4 linked regions of the Homo sapiens genome follow. The protein of the gene in region 1 purifies or fractionates together with the protein of each later gene. This does not show direct contact. Each region holds a gene or a part of one and is shown on either strand. Other genes may lie near its edges.

Region 1 (3,500 bases):
CTATCCCTTATAACTCAGTCCCAACAAACACACAGAGGCATGACCCCAATCAGTAAGGAAGGTTTACCCTTCCACATCCCGTCAATGAGTGGAGAGAGGCCTTCTGTTCCTAACCCCGCACCCAAACTAACCATTGTGTTATCCTTCAAAATCAAGCCAGAATTACCTTTCTAAAGGGCGGATCCACATTATTTTCAGAGGCATCTGCCTCGAGACCACTTCGTGACTGCCTCTGTGTTCGTAGGATCTCAGGCCTTCCTCCACTTGCCCACCCAAGTCGATCCATGCAACCCCACCACGCCCACGTGGCAGTCCTCACTCCACACACGGTGGGTGAGTTCTGTGGATACGCAGGCATATTTGCCACCTCCTCCCCCTACTCATATGATTTCCTTCACTTGAAACACCTTCCATCTCTTCTGGATGCACAAGTGACCGAGCTGGGTGTGCCATCCTTGCCTTCTCCCTTAAAAACGCTCAATAACACTTCATTGCATTTTTCTATTTTTTTTTTTTAATTATTTTGAGATGGAGTCTCGCTCTGTTGCCCAGGCTGGAGTGCAGTGGCACGATCTCGGCTCACTGCAACCTCCGCCTCTAGGGTTCAAGTGATTCTCCAACCTCAGCCTCCCGAGTAGCTGGGACTACAGGCTTGCACCACCGCTTCCAGCTAATTTTTGTATTTTTACTAGAGATGGGGCTTCATCATGTTGGCCAGGCTAGTCTTGAACTCCTGACCTCAAGTGATCCACCTGCCTTGGCCTCCCAAAGTGCTGCGATTACAGGCGTGAGCTGCCGCGCCCGGCCTTCAGTGCATTTTTCTTTGTATGAAGGCCCCAAGGACAGTGTTCTTGTTAGACCCAATTTTGCACATCTGATGCTTATACTAATATTTGTTCACTAAGTGAATCTAAATATTAATGCCTTCATTGTCAATAGAAATAAGTCATAAGGTAAACAAAAGGCCCTTCTTCATCAAATTAACCTCTTCTCAGGGAAGACACTGAAACTATTTCTACAGATTATCATCTTACCTTTTAATAACAAATTTAATTCGATTGCCCACTTGAATGATTTTTTCCAGCCTTGGGATTCCATACCATGAGGGACTTCGGAAAGGAATGTTTTCTGGCAGTCCTTCCACGTACAGATCATTCGGGTGTGCCTCAAATTTTTGGTACGGTACAGCCTTGGCTTCAGTGCTCCCCAAGGCTTCCGCTGGACAAAAATCAAAGCAATTCGGGAGACTACATTTGTATTGAAATCAGATTTTAGTACAATCCAAAGAAAGGCACAGGTCAATTTTGTTTTACTTGAAAAAAACTCTTTCTAGAAACATATTTATTAACTATTGAATAGACTTAATACAGCAAAGACAAGTAGAGATGACCGATCATCAACAGCCAGATTTGGGCAGATTTAAGTGTCCTGGTCCTAAGACAATCTTAATAGCTCTGAGATCTTTAAAAGATTAAAGTTTGTTTTTCAATATCCTTAGGAAGAAAAGAGAGAAAGAAAATCATCATGGACAATAGAGGACACAACCTAAATACTATCTGGAAGCAGCCTTTTGCTACTAACTGTTCAGGACCGTAATTACCCTCCTCCATCGGCTATGGCAAACTGGTAACACATTTCCGACTACACTTTCATCTGCGTGGCAACCAGATCAATGTTCTTTACCCCTTCAACCTCACGAGCATGCCATTTTAAAGGAAATAACTTTCCACAGATAATTCATAGAATGGGGGCCGGGCGCGGTGGCTCACGCCTATAATCCCAGCACTTTAGGAGGCTGAGGCGGGTGGATCACCTGAATTCAGGAGTTTGAGACCAGCCTGGCCAACATGGCGAAACCCCATCTCTACTAAAAATACAAAAGTTAGCCAGGCGTGGTGGCGGGCACCTGTAATCCCAGCTACTTGGGACGCTGAGGCAGGAGAATTGCTTGAACCCGGGAGGAGGAGGTTGCAGTGAGCTGAGATCGTACCACTGCACTCCAGCCTGGGCAACAGAGCAAGACTCCTTCTCAAGAAAAAAAAAAAAACCCAAAAAAAAAAAACAGGGAAAACTAAAGCTGAGTCCTATTCACTGTATTTACTTTCCTAAAATAAAACAACATTTAAAAAAATGTTACTCAGTAATACATTTTAGTTGAAGGGGTAATTAAAAAAAACAGACTTACCAAATTTTTTGCAGAAAAGCTGATCCACCATCTTTCTTAATTTAGTGATTCTGGCATACCATTCTTCCTTTACTGTCAAAATAACAGTAATACAAGTGTTCTCAATTTAATGGGTTTAATAACTTGATTATTAAACATTATTACTATAAAATAAGAGGTATAACTTTTCCTTTTCCTATGGCCAAAATTATTTCTAAGATTCGTGGCCAGGTGCAATGGCTCACACCTGTAATCCCAACACTTTGGGAAGCCGAGGCAGGCGGGTCACTTGAGGTCAGGAGTTTGAGACCAGCCTGGCCAACATGGTGAAACCCCATCTCTACTAAAAATACAAAAATTAGCCAGGCGTGATGGCGCACGCCTGTAGTCCCAGCTACTCATGAGGCTGAGGCAGGAGAATCGCTTGAACCCAGGAGGCAGCGGTTGCAGTGAGCTGAGATTGCGCCATTGCACTCCAGCCTGGGCAACAGAATGAGATTCCGTCTCAAAAAAAAAAAAAGACAATAATAAAATTATTCCTAAGATTCTAGAATGTATTTATTTCTAAAACAATGCTGACACTGTACAAAAAGAGGAAGAACGAAACATTCATTAGAGCTAGGAAAAAGCAAAACTCAGTGTATTCAGGAACAGCTAGCAGGTAACACTTGCTACAGGAAGATTAGGGCTATGATCTTGCTGCAGTCCTTCTATCTTAGTAAATATCAACAGGGTGATTCCATTCTGTTTTATCCTCACTCCACTCCACTCCAGAGCAAAAGCAAGCAAGAAAATCAATTATATTTCTATTTATTTTAAAACACATCTAACAGGCTGGGCGCGGTGGCTCATGCCTGTAATCCTAGCACTCTGGGAGGCCGAGGTGGGCAGATCACCTGAGGTCAGCAGTTTGAGATCAGCCTGGCCAACATAGTGAAACCCTGTCTCTACGAAAAATACAAAAATTAGCTGGGCATGGTGGCAGGCACCTGTAATCCCAGCTACAGGGAGGCTGAGGCAGGAGAACTGCTTGAACCCAGGAGGCGGGAGGTTGCAGTGAGCGGAGATCGCACCACTGCACTCCAGCCTGGGCAACAGAGCAAGATTCCCTCTCAAAAAACAAAACAAAACAAAACAAAATACATCTAACAATTAAGAGATGATATAAATGGCTCCATGCTCTAAAAGGAAACCTTCTTATGTCCTGCATATCATGGACATTCAATGAATGCTTGTTCCATTGACTCGTGTAGACTTCAATAATAAACTGTTCAATGCATTATGCCAGATAAATCTTGCATCAAAAGTAGAACAAATATTGTTCTTTTACTTCTGT
Region 2 (3,500 bases), on another chromosome or scaffold:
CAGGTTCCACATCCGTGACCAAACACAGACTGAAAATACAGTATTCTGCCTGTAATCCCAGCACTTTGGGAGGCTAAGGTAGGCGTATCTTCAGCCCAGGAGTTCAAGACCAGCCTGGGCAACATGGTGACACCCTGTCTCTACTAAAAATGTAAAAATTAGCCAGGCACAGTGGCATATACCTGTAATCCCAGCTACTTGGGAGGCTGAGGTAGGAAGATTGCTTGAGCTTGGGAGATGGAGGCTGCAATGAGCCGTGATTGCACCACTGCACTGCAGCCTGGTCTACAAAGCAAGTCCTTATCTCAAAAAAAATGAAAATAAAAAATTATTTGAGGATGTGAAATCTGTGTAGAAGGCTGACTGTAGGGGTGTGGAACTTGAGTATGCATAGACTTTGGTATCCATCCACAGGTGGTCCTGGAACCAATCCCCTAGAATACTGAGGATAACTCTAGTTGCAGTTACTAGTTTAATGAAGCTAATAAAACCATCTTTACCTTTCTTCGACAGTTAACTTAGATTTGGTTGAATCTCTGTTGTCATGATTGATTGCTTTGTGTATAGTATGTATATGTTCATCCTCGAGAGTGACATTTCGCGGATGTCTGTGCCTGCTCTGTGCATATTAAGTTTATATTTGGGTTCATTTTCAAAAGGAATATTTGTGGGCCATGTGCAGTGGCTCACGCCTGTAATCCCAGCACTTTAGGAGGCTGACATGGGCAGATCACCTGAGGTCAGGAGTTCAAGACCAGACTGGCCAACATGGTGAAACCCCCTCTCTACTAAAAATACAAAATTAGTTGGGCATGGTGGCACATGCCTGTAATCCCAGCTGCTGGGGAGGCTGAGGCAGGAGAATCGCTTGAACCCGGGAGGCGGAGGTTGCAGTGAACTGAGATAGCGCCATTGCACTCCAGCCTGGGCAACAAGAGTGAAATTCCATCTCAAAAAAAAAAAAGAAAAATATTTGTGAAGCCATAAGGTTTAGAACTGAAACATAGAATTTCATATAAAATATTATTTTATCCCAAATCACTTGCAGTACTTAGAAGAACACTGTGTCAGGGCTTGGCTATTATAGTCCCCTGGGGGACAGAAATACTTCAAAAATTCTTTTTCTTTAATTTGAATTCCAAAAAGTAGATGCTTGTATTCTAGGCTTTCTTATCACAGTTAACATCTTAGTTTTGTATGTGTTCTTTTCAAAGCTTTTATCCAGTGTGATATTACAAAGTAGATCATGTGTCAGAGTAATTTTTAATTTGGAAAAATACCTTTTAATGTTTAGTAAACCTAACTCAAAATGATTTGGTTAATTAGGTGCCAGTTCCTGTTTTTCTGCCTGCTCCATTGGACAGCAGTGAGAAGATTCCTGCAGCAATTGAGGAGCTAAAAAGCAAGGTTTCTTCAGATGCTCTTGATACAGAGTTGCTTACAATGACGGATATGATGAGTGAAGACGAGGGGAAAACAGAGACAACCAACATCAACAGTGAGCTACACTAAATTATACCTTGCGAATAAGTGTTAACATTGGTTATTTATAAGTATTGTTACAGTACTTTCCAGGGCATATCATTTTGTTTCAACTTATGTGGGGGTGAGGAAAGCATTGTAACAAAAATGTTTTTTATATTAAGAGATCTACACTGTATTTAGCCAGGTGCCCTCAGACAGATATCCGAAGCAGGAATTTGGTCTTTGGTCTCTGTTTTAAGCAGGATTTGACTTGTAAAATCAACTCAAAATTATTCTTGTTAATGGAGTAGTGCTGATGCAAAACTATAATAACTTGTAGTAGACTCTAATGATGATCAAAACTCTTATTTTGTAATAGTTATCCCTAGTTTTTTGTTTTGTTTTGTTTTTTTTTTTAGATGAACTCTTGCTCTGTTGCCCAGGGTGGAGTGTAGTAGCATGATCCCGGTTCACTGAGATCTCTGCCTCCTGGGTTCAAGCTATGCTTCTGCCTCAGCCTCCTGAGTAGCTGGAATTACAGGCACGTGCCACCACGCCCAGCCAATTTTTGTCTTTTTAGTAGAGACAGGGCTTCCCTATGTTGGCCAGGCTGATCTCAAACTCCTGACCTCAGGTGATCCACCTGCTTCCCAAAGTGCTGGTATTACAGGTGTGAGCTACCACACCCAGCCCCTAGTTTTCTTTTATTGCTTATACTAATAAAATAATTTGCATTATCTAAACCAGAGTTTATCTTAACCTCTGTTAGGGCAGTGCTTGCGCTACATGGTATAACGTGATGAGTGTGTTGTGGATGGTTCTAAGTCACTTAGAATATTTATTTTCCACCCTTAACCCTCTCTTGATACCCAAAGTCCTATTTCAACCTTGAGCTAATTCTTACCCTTACCCTAGAGGACAATCAAAATACTATAATTTTCTCTGGATTTAATAATGAGACAGTGTTTTTGAAGCACTGTGGTAAGGAGTTGTGAAATTAGTGGGTTGCAACCAGTGTTTTTGTTTAAGAAAAGAAAAAGCTAAGTGGAATAGGGTAAGAGAAATGACAGTGTGAATCCCTCATAGAAAGGGTAAGTATTATTTTGTGAAACCAGTGTGTATACAGATGTCTTTCTGTTCCCCACCATCACCTTGCAGTATGTGCTGGATAAAATGCATTTCTTGCCATGATTACAACACAAAAACACTTGAAAGCAACTGATCGAACCATTAAAAGGCAGTTGTTAATATGCATATATTGAACAATCTGAGAAACCTGGGTCAAAATTCAAAGAGTATTGAAAACTACAGTTGTCTACCCTCATTAGTTTATTTTTGACAAAAAGTTGCTTTTAGAAATACTTTACTTGTTGAAGTTGTTTTACTATCAAAGCATACCTATTAGCTTTTGAAGGGAGTCCTCCTGTAAAATTTATAGGATTAAAAGTTTTCATGTGCTTGTGACTAATTATGAGGTTTATAGTGGTTTACATTTTGAGATAGTTATATATATAATATGCCCTTTTCTTTTGTGACATTATACGTATTTTTTTATATTGCATTTAAAATTAAATGACTTGCTTTTGCCAGATTAAATACAGATACCATTGGGGTTTTCTGTTTTGATTCCTAATGATAATATGGATTGATTTCAGGTGTAATTATTGAAACAGATATAATTGGTTCAGACCTTTTGAAGAACTCTGACCCAGAGACACAGTCCAGCATGCCTGATGTACCATATGAACCAGATTTGGATATCGAAATAGATTTTCCCAGAGGTACTCAAAACCTTTATGACTATGGAATTTAGTTATGGAGTCAACTGTGGTTATGATCATTTACCATTTGATGTTTGTGTCATTGCCTTTTAGCAGTGTTCATATTTTTTATTCTTGTTATTTTTTAAACTCACCTTAAGAGTTAACTTCATATTTTGTTGTTGTTTTTTTTTAAAAACCCACCTTAACAGTTAACTTCTGGAATGAGATCACTTGAGTCCAGGAGTTCAAGACCAGCCTGGGCAATGTGGTGAA
Region 3 (3,500 bases), on another chromosome or scaffold:
ACAAAGCCAATCACTGTGAGATGGGAAGGCTTTCTCCAAGAGCTGGGAGAGCACTTTAAAAATATCTTGTTTCCTTATCACAAGCTATCCCATTAGGCAGGGAAATGACAGCTCCCTCTAAAGAAGCACAGAGGCAGTGCCACACCCTCTGTCTCTAAACCCTTTCTGGCTGGAGTTACGTGCTGAGGCCTGTATGGGCACAGTGTGCCCAGTAGCTTACCTGGCCAATGGACTGCAGCAATTTGGCAACATGATTACCCACAGCGGCAGCATCTTTCTTTGCTTTTTCACGGTAACTAAAAAAGAATAAAAAGCAATTACTAACAAATTTTTAAATTAGCAAAATTTAAATTGTTACCATGAACAAAAATTTTCTTTCCTTTTCATGAAAAAACACAGGTCTGACAATGTATGAAATGTGAAAATGCCAGGGAAATGCTATCAACAGCACCATGAGTAGCTGGGAATCTTTCCAGTGTTAGTGACGGACTCTCAGTGCCCACTAAAACCCAGGGTCCCTCTAACAGCACCCAACTTAAAAACTGCTCCCCTAGAGGGATCTATGATTTCGGCTTCTGTGACAGAGGACCTGAAAAAATACATTACTGAAGAACATGACTTATCTCCTGGAAGTCAAGTCCAAGGAAAGTTAAATACATTAAAACTGTTCATCTCCAATGTAAAACTTCTTTGTTTTTTGAGACAGGATCTCGCTCTGCCACCCAGGCTGGAGTACAGTGGCGCAGTCCTGGCTCACTGCAGCCTCAACTTCCCACGCTCAACTGATCCTCCCACCTCAGCTTCCCAAGTAGCTGGGAATTCAGGCACACGCTACCATGCCCGACTAATTTTTGTCTTTTTTGTAGAGACGGAGTTTCACCATGTTGCCCAGGCTGGTCTTGAACTCCTGGGTTCAAGTGATTTAGAAACTGAAAATACTGTATTAATGACAATTTTCAATTAACTGACCTTCATACCTTTTTAGCATTGCCATAGATAAACATGCTCTACCTCTGATTGTTTTAAAATACTCTGTATTTATTATGAGAGGAAAAAAAAACCCTTACCCAATTATTATCTGTATCTATACCACTGAGACAGACCATGGAAAACGTAAAATTTCAACCATTTAAAACAACTGTGAACATCCCTTGTGGCACATTTCACCACCCGCTTTGGCCTCCCAAAGTGCTGGGAATACAGGTGTGAGCCACTGCATCCGGCCATAAAAGTTTTCTTTACGTCTATTTACCTTTCACCCTCTAAAAATCATCAGTGTTCAGGCTGACTACCTCCCATGTAAGGTCATACTTCTTTCTATCCTCAATTGACCTTCCCCAAGTTTTAAGTAGTTGAACTCTTAGGCTAGGACAACAAACCAAGATTCGTTCAATGGTGACATGATAAAGAGTGAAATCTGTCTGGGGAAGAGAGATCATCTCTGTGTGACATTACTTGGACCCCAAAGAAACCGAGCCAGCAGACCTGGATTCTTTGCACCATGCCCTAACTATACGAGGGTCATATTCATTGAGACCCATCCCTGTGATAGTCTATCTGGGTTCAGGCTAGTGATACCTGGATAGCAAGATGTCTAGCTATAGTCATAGACTATAACTTATGAAACATTAAGATAAAAAATTCATCAAACCTTCATGGTTTTAAGTTACAAATACAAGGTAGTATAGGGCCATAGCTAAGCATACAGGCTCTGGTACTGGGTTTCCTGGGGTTCAAATCTTGGTTCTGCCATTTACCAGCTATCTGACCTTGTATAAGTAACCTTTTCAATACCTTAGTTTCTTCATGTGTAAAATGGGGCCGGTAACAGTCTCTCTCTCTCTCATAAGGTCGTTGTGAACCTTGTGTGTGTGTTAAATTACTTAATACATATAGTTCATAGCACAGAGTTAAGGGATCAAATATTAAGTTTATCATGAAGTATGAAAAAAAACTCTGCCTCCTAGGCGTATGTGGTAATTCTGTATTTCCCATTCAATTTTGCTTTGAGCTTAACAAGAATTGCCCCCTAAGTTCTTTTTTTTTTTTTTTTTTTTTTTGAGACGGACTCTTGCTCTGTCTCCAGGCTGGAGTGCAGTGGCACGATCTTGGCTCACTGCAACCTCCGTCTCCTGGGTTCAAGCGATTCCCCTGCCTCAGCCTCCCGAATAGCTGGGACTACAGGTGCGCACCACCACACCTGGCTAATTTTTTGTATTTTTTTAGTAGAGACAGGGTTTCACCATGTTGGCCAGGATGGTCTTGATCTTCTGACCTTGTGATCCACCCGTCTCGGCCTCCCGAAGTGGTGGGATTACAGGCGTGAGCCACCACGCCCGGCCTAAGTTCTTTTTTTTTTTTTTTGAGACAGAGTCTCACTCTGTCGCCCAGGCTGGAGTGCAGTGGTGCGATCTCCGCTCACTGCAAGCTCCGCCTCCCGGGTTCACGCTATTCTCCTGCCTCAGCCTCCCGGGTAGCTGGGACTACAGGCGCCTGCCACCACGCCCGGCTAATTTTTTTGTATTTTTAGTAGAGACAGGGTTTCACCGTGTTAGTCAGGATGGTCTCAATCTCCTGACCTCGTGATCCGCCTGCCTCGGCCTCCCAAAGCGCTGGGATTACAGGTGTGAGCCACTGCGCCCAGCCTGGTCTAAGTTCTTCAGCTTATTTTTACTTATTTATTTGAAACAGGGTCTTGCTCTGTCACCCAGGCTGAAGTGAAGTGGCATGATCATGGCTCACTGCAGCCTCAAACTCCTGAGCTCAAGAGATCCTTCTGCCTCAGCCTCCTGAGTAGTTGAGATTAAAGGCGAACACTACCATGCCCACCTAATTTTTCAATTTGTAGAGATGGAAGTCTCACTATGTTGCCCACGATGGTCTCAAACTCCTGGACTCAAGCAATTCTCCCACCTTGGCCTCCCAAAGTGTTGGGATTACAGGCATGAGCCACTGCAGCTGGCCTAGTTTATTTATAAGCAATGAGGTTGTAATAAACTTTCATTTGATTTCTGACAGGATGATAAAATGTTTATCTCTAATATAATCAGACTTTTTCTATTACATAGTTTGAAAACAGTGACATACACGTTTTGCAGTTTTATATATTTGCCTGAATCTGCAATCATATCAGGAATTGTGCCTCGAACAGGTAAATTTCCTTGACCCTCTTTGGCCACAAATTCCTTTAAGGCACGAGCTAAAATCCAAAATGATGGAGTCTAAAAGAATAAGAAAAAATTAACATTAAGTGGCGTTTTACTTTGACCCAAAGTTTTAGCAGCAATGTTTTTACTTTTGTTGTTGTTACCTGTTTGGTGATATTTATGCAGCGATCATCATTAAATATATCTTCAATACTGCTTGGGATCTAACAAAGGAACATGAAACATTTACTTACACAGTATTAAGAATTCGCCCATCTTTATTTTCAGTGCTATTTCTTCAGATATGTTCTTTGAATTCTCAAATTGTAATCAAATACAAACTTCTGATTGGTT
Region 4 (3,500 bases), on another chromosome or scaffold:
AAAATAAAAGCAATAAAGGACATTTTTGGCATAAATGAGAAAATTCCTAAATAGATTTGTATTTGATTACAGTACCATATTAATGTTAAGTTTCCAAATGTATGATAACTGCACTGTAATTATGTGAAGAACATTCTTCTTGTTAGAAGATAAAAGAAAGGTAAAGTATTTGGAGATGAAATTCAACTAATTATCAATGGGTCTGGCAAAAGCAAACATATAAAACAAATGTGACAAAACATCAACAATTTGTGAATCTATGTGAAGGGTATATGAGTGTTCACATTAGTTTTACAACCACTCATTAATATTTAGATTTTATAATGGTCCCTGCTGATGGTATACAATAGTTAACACTTTAACTGCAAATCAAACATTTTCTTTTAAATTACATGACAAGAGAACTTAGATACTGCTATGGTTTGAATGTTTTTGTCCTCTCCAAAAATTCATGTTGAAACTTAATCCACGAAGCAACAGTGCTGGGAGGTGGGGCATTTTGGGAGGTGTTTAGGTGGTCATCAGCACTCTGCTCTTATGAATGGATTAATGCCATTATAAAAGGACTTGAAGGAAGAAGCACATCCCTTTCTGCTCTTCTGCCGTGAGAACACAGCATTCCTCCCCTCCAGAGGACCAGAAAGACCCTCACCTTGATCTTGGACTTCTCAGCCTCTAGAACTGTGTGAAATAAATTTCTGTTCTTTATAAATTACTGAGTTGTTGGTATTCTGTTATAGCAGCACGAAATAAACTAAGACAAATGTATTCAAGGATGATTTCAACAGAATAATTTATAATACAAGAAAACTTTTTAAAAAACTAAATGTCCATTAGTAAGGTATTCTACACTAGGGCTGCTTCTCAAGGCCATAGTACAGTCTAAGGCAGTAGTTTTAGTGCAGGGGACCATTAAATTAAGTACTACGCAGCCACTGATAGGAGTAAGATATCCCAGAGTAGGTTCCATGTGTACTAAAATGCAAAGATGTTGAGGGAAAAAAAACAGGTTGTGAAACAACATGCATACATTTTTTGAAAATATATAAAAATGCTTCCACACTTAACCATATTTGGTGTTTATCTCCCTGAGGCAGCATTTATGAGAACTTTTGTTCTTAGTAATTTTACATTTTTTCTAAGGAGTGTATACTTTTTATATATGGAGATGTGTGTTATACACAAACTCACATACAGGAAAAAAGAAACACCATAATAGAATGTTAATACATACAACATACATATAACAGAATACATAAAAACAAAATACATACACATATAACACAGTAACATACATATAACAGAATACATAAACAGAATATCTCACTCTAAGAGAAATTATACTGCCCTGTTTTTTGAAAATGAGTTACAAAAGCTTGTATTACCTGACTTGTTTTCTATGTGTAAAGATGAATATGTAAACACTGATAGTGGAAACTGTCTTGAAGGATTCACAAAGTAGTTATCTCTTAGAATTTTTTATTTTCTTTATTAACTATATTCTAATTTTTCTCTAATGATTCATATTCATTGACTTTTTAAATTTAAAACATATATATGTGTATGTATAAATGATTTTTAAAGTCTTCAAAAACAATCAGGGGCTAAATAGATTAGGTCTTACCTAGATTGTTCTCCAGGACAGCCTTTTCTCCATCTAATTTTGTTTTGCCATACAAATTTAGGGGAGCTGGTATGTCTTCCTCTCTGTAAGGTGGATTTGTTCCATCAAATACATAATCTGAGCTAATGTAGATGAGAAATGCTCCAACAGCAGCTACAAAAAAAGAAGACAAATCTATTAAATGTTTACATGACATTACTCTTTCATGGAATTTAGAATGGTTTTTCATGATATATAAAAACAAATAACCATCTACAAAACCTTAATTTCTAAAAACTCAGCAATCACTTAATATTTTATGAAAATTTTATAAAGTCATCATTACCTGCTTCCTTTGCTAAATTCCCAGAAGCATCCACATTAAGTTGAGAGGCAGCATCTGGCTGATTTTCTACAACATCTGGTCTTCTCTCTGCTGCACAATGTACTATAACATGGGGCTAGAAGTTAAGCATTGACGTATTTTTAACTCAAAATAAAATGAAAGAGGTATTACAGCCTTCTTAAAGTTAATTCAGAGAAAAATGTGCAGTAAGTCAACATTCTTTCAACTAAGAATAAATCATTGTAATTTCTAATGTAGTTTTGTCATGCTGCTTCTTTTCCCCGCAAGGTTCAAACTTAAAATATTTATAGGCACTGAAAAGAGTATTTCATAATATGCAGACACAAACCAGGAAAAAAACTGTCAACAACTGTATTTCTACTCTGGTGTGACGGTTCATGCATGTAATCCCAACACTTTGGGAGGCTGAGGTGAGACAATGCTTGAGGCCAGGAGTTCAAGATAAGACTAGGCAACATAGTGGTTGGTACTCAATCTCTACAAAAAAATTTAAAAATCAGCCAGTCGTGGTGGCATGAGCCTGTAGTTCTAACTGTTGTGGAGGCCGAGGCAGAAGGATCACTTGAGCCAAGGAATTCAAGGCTACAGTGGGCTGTGATCGATCTACCGTACTTCACCCTGGGCTACAGAGTGAGACCCTGTCTGAAAATAAAACAACCATGTTTCTAGGCTGGGCGCGGTGGCTCAAATCTGTAATCCCAGCACTTTGGAAGGCTGAGGTGGGTGGATCACGTGAGGTCAGGAGTTCAAGACCAGCCTGGCCAACATGGTGAAACCCCATCTCTACTAGAAATACAACAATTAGCCAGGTGTGGTTGCGCATGCCTGTAGTCTCAGGTACTCAGGAAGCTTAGGCAGGAGAATTGCTTGAACCCTGGGAGGCGGAGGCTGCAGTGAGCTCAACTGCACCACTGCACTCCAGCCTGGGCAACAAACCAAGATTACGTCACAAAAACAAGAACAAAACAGAAGTCTTTCTAAATCAAAACAAGTTTTATCCCCCAATTTGGACAAAAGGAAAGAGCTATCATTTATGCAATTAACATGATTTAAATATCTAATAAATCCATGTCAAAGGGAGAATAGTATCAATGATACCGAAAACCTCTCTGAGCCTGCTCCCTCAGCCCTAAAATGAAAATAACTATTTTGCAGTGTTGTGAGGTTTACAGTAACATTTGAAAACCATTTGCAGAGAAAGTATTACTTAGAAGGCACTCTATAAACATAAGCATTTTATAAAATGTCTCATATTTGTCTTTGTCAGCGTGTCAAAATTTAACTTTAAGGTTTACATATACCATGTCATGCTAAATGAAAAAAATGCTACTGCATAATACAACTTTAGAGCTTTCAAACATAGTAATTTCCTTGAGAGCAAGGATAGTTTCTGTATCATCCAGACAACTCTTAATATTGTTCATGTATATCTTAAAATAACCTAAATCATACCTGAAAATCATGAATGATGTGATGAACTGCATTAGAATCCAACAGATTAACCTGTTCAAATTTTGGTCTTGCTCTTCT

The links. Proteins that work in one complex are often made in the same cells at the same time.
Region 2: the proteins of GTF2I (region 1) and ZMYM2 fractionate together in Homo sapiens (co-fractionation; one large-scale study listed by BioGRID). This does not show direct contact.
Region 3: the proteins of GTF2I (region 1) and NAE1 fractionate together in Homo sapiens (co-fractionation; one large-scale study listed by BioGRID). This does not show direct contact.
Region 4: the proteins of GTF2I (region 1) and MAT2B fractionate together in Homo sapiens (co-fractionation; one large-scale study listed by BioGRID). This does not show direct contact.

The regions. Positions count from the first base shown.
Region 1 is NC_000007.14:74,734,218-74,737,717, reverse strand, and holds part of GTF2I (general transcription factor II-I), read right to left. Parts: intron 2,258-3,500; coding exon 2,186-2,257; intron 1,219-2,185; coding exon 1,035-1,218; intron 1-1,034. UniProt on the Homo sapiens protein: Interacts with the basal transcription machinery by coordinating the formation of a multiprotein complex at the C-FOS promoter, and linking specific signal responsive activator complexes.
Region 2 is NC_000013.11:20,059,727-20,063,226, forward strand, and holds part of ZMYM2 (zinc finger MYM-type protein 2), read left to right. Parts: intron 1-1,326; coding exon 1,327-1,498; intron 1,499-3,119; coding exon 3,120-3,245; intron 3,246-3,500. UniProt on the Homo sapiens protein: Involved in the negative regulation of transcription.
Region 3 is NC_000016.10:66,810,477-66,813,976, forward strand, and holds part of NAE1 (NEDD8-activating enzyme E1 regulatory subunit), read right to left. Parts: intron 3,371-3,500; coding exon 3,311-3,370; intron 3,222-3,310; coding exon 3,088-3,221; intron 297-3,087; coding exon 221-296; intron 1-220. UniProt on the Homo sapiens protein: Regulatory subunit of the dimeric UBA3-NAE1 E1 enzyme. E1 activates NEDD8 by first adenylating its C-terminal glycine residue with ATP, thereafter linking this residue to the side chain of the catalytic cysteine, yielding a NEDD8-UBA3 thioester and free AMP.
Region 4 is NC_000005.10:163,512,119-163,515,618, reverse strand, and holds part of MAT2B (methionine adenosyltransferase 2 subunit beta), read right to left. Parts: coding exon 3,423-3,500; intron 2,065-3,422; coding exon 1,950-2,064; intron 1,778-1,949; coding exon 1,625-1,777; intron 1-1,624.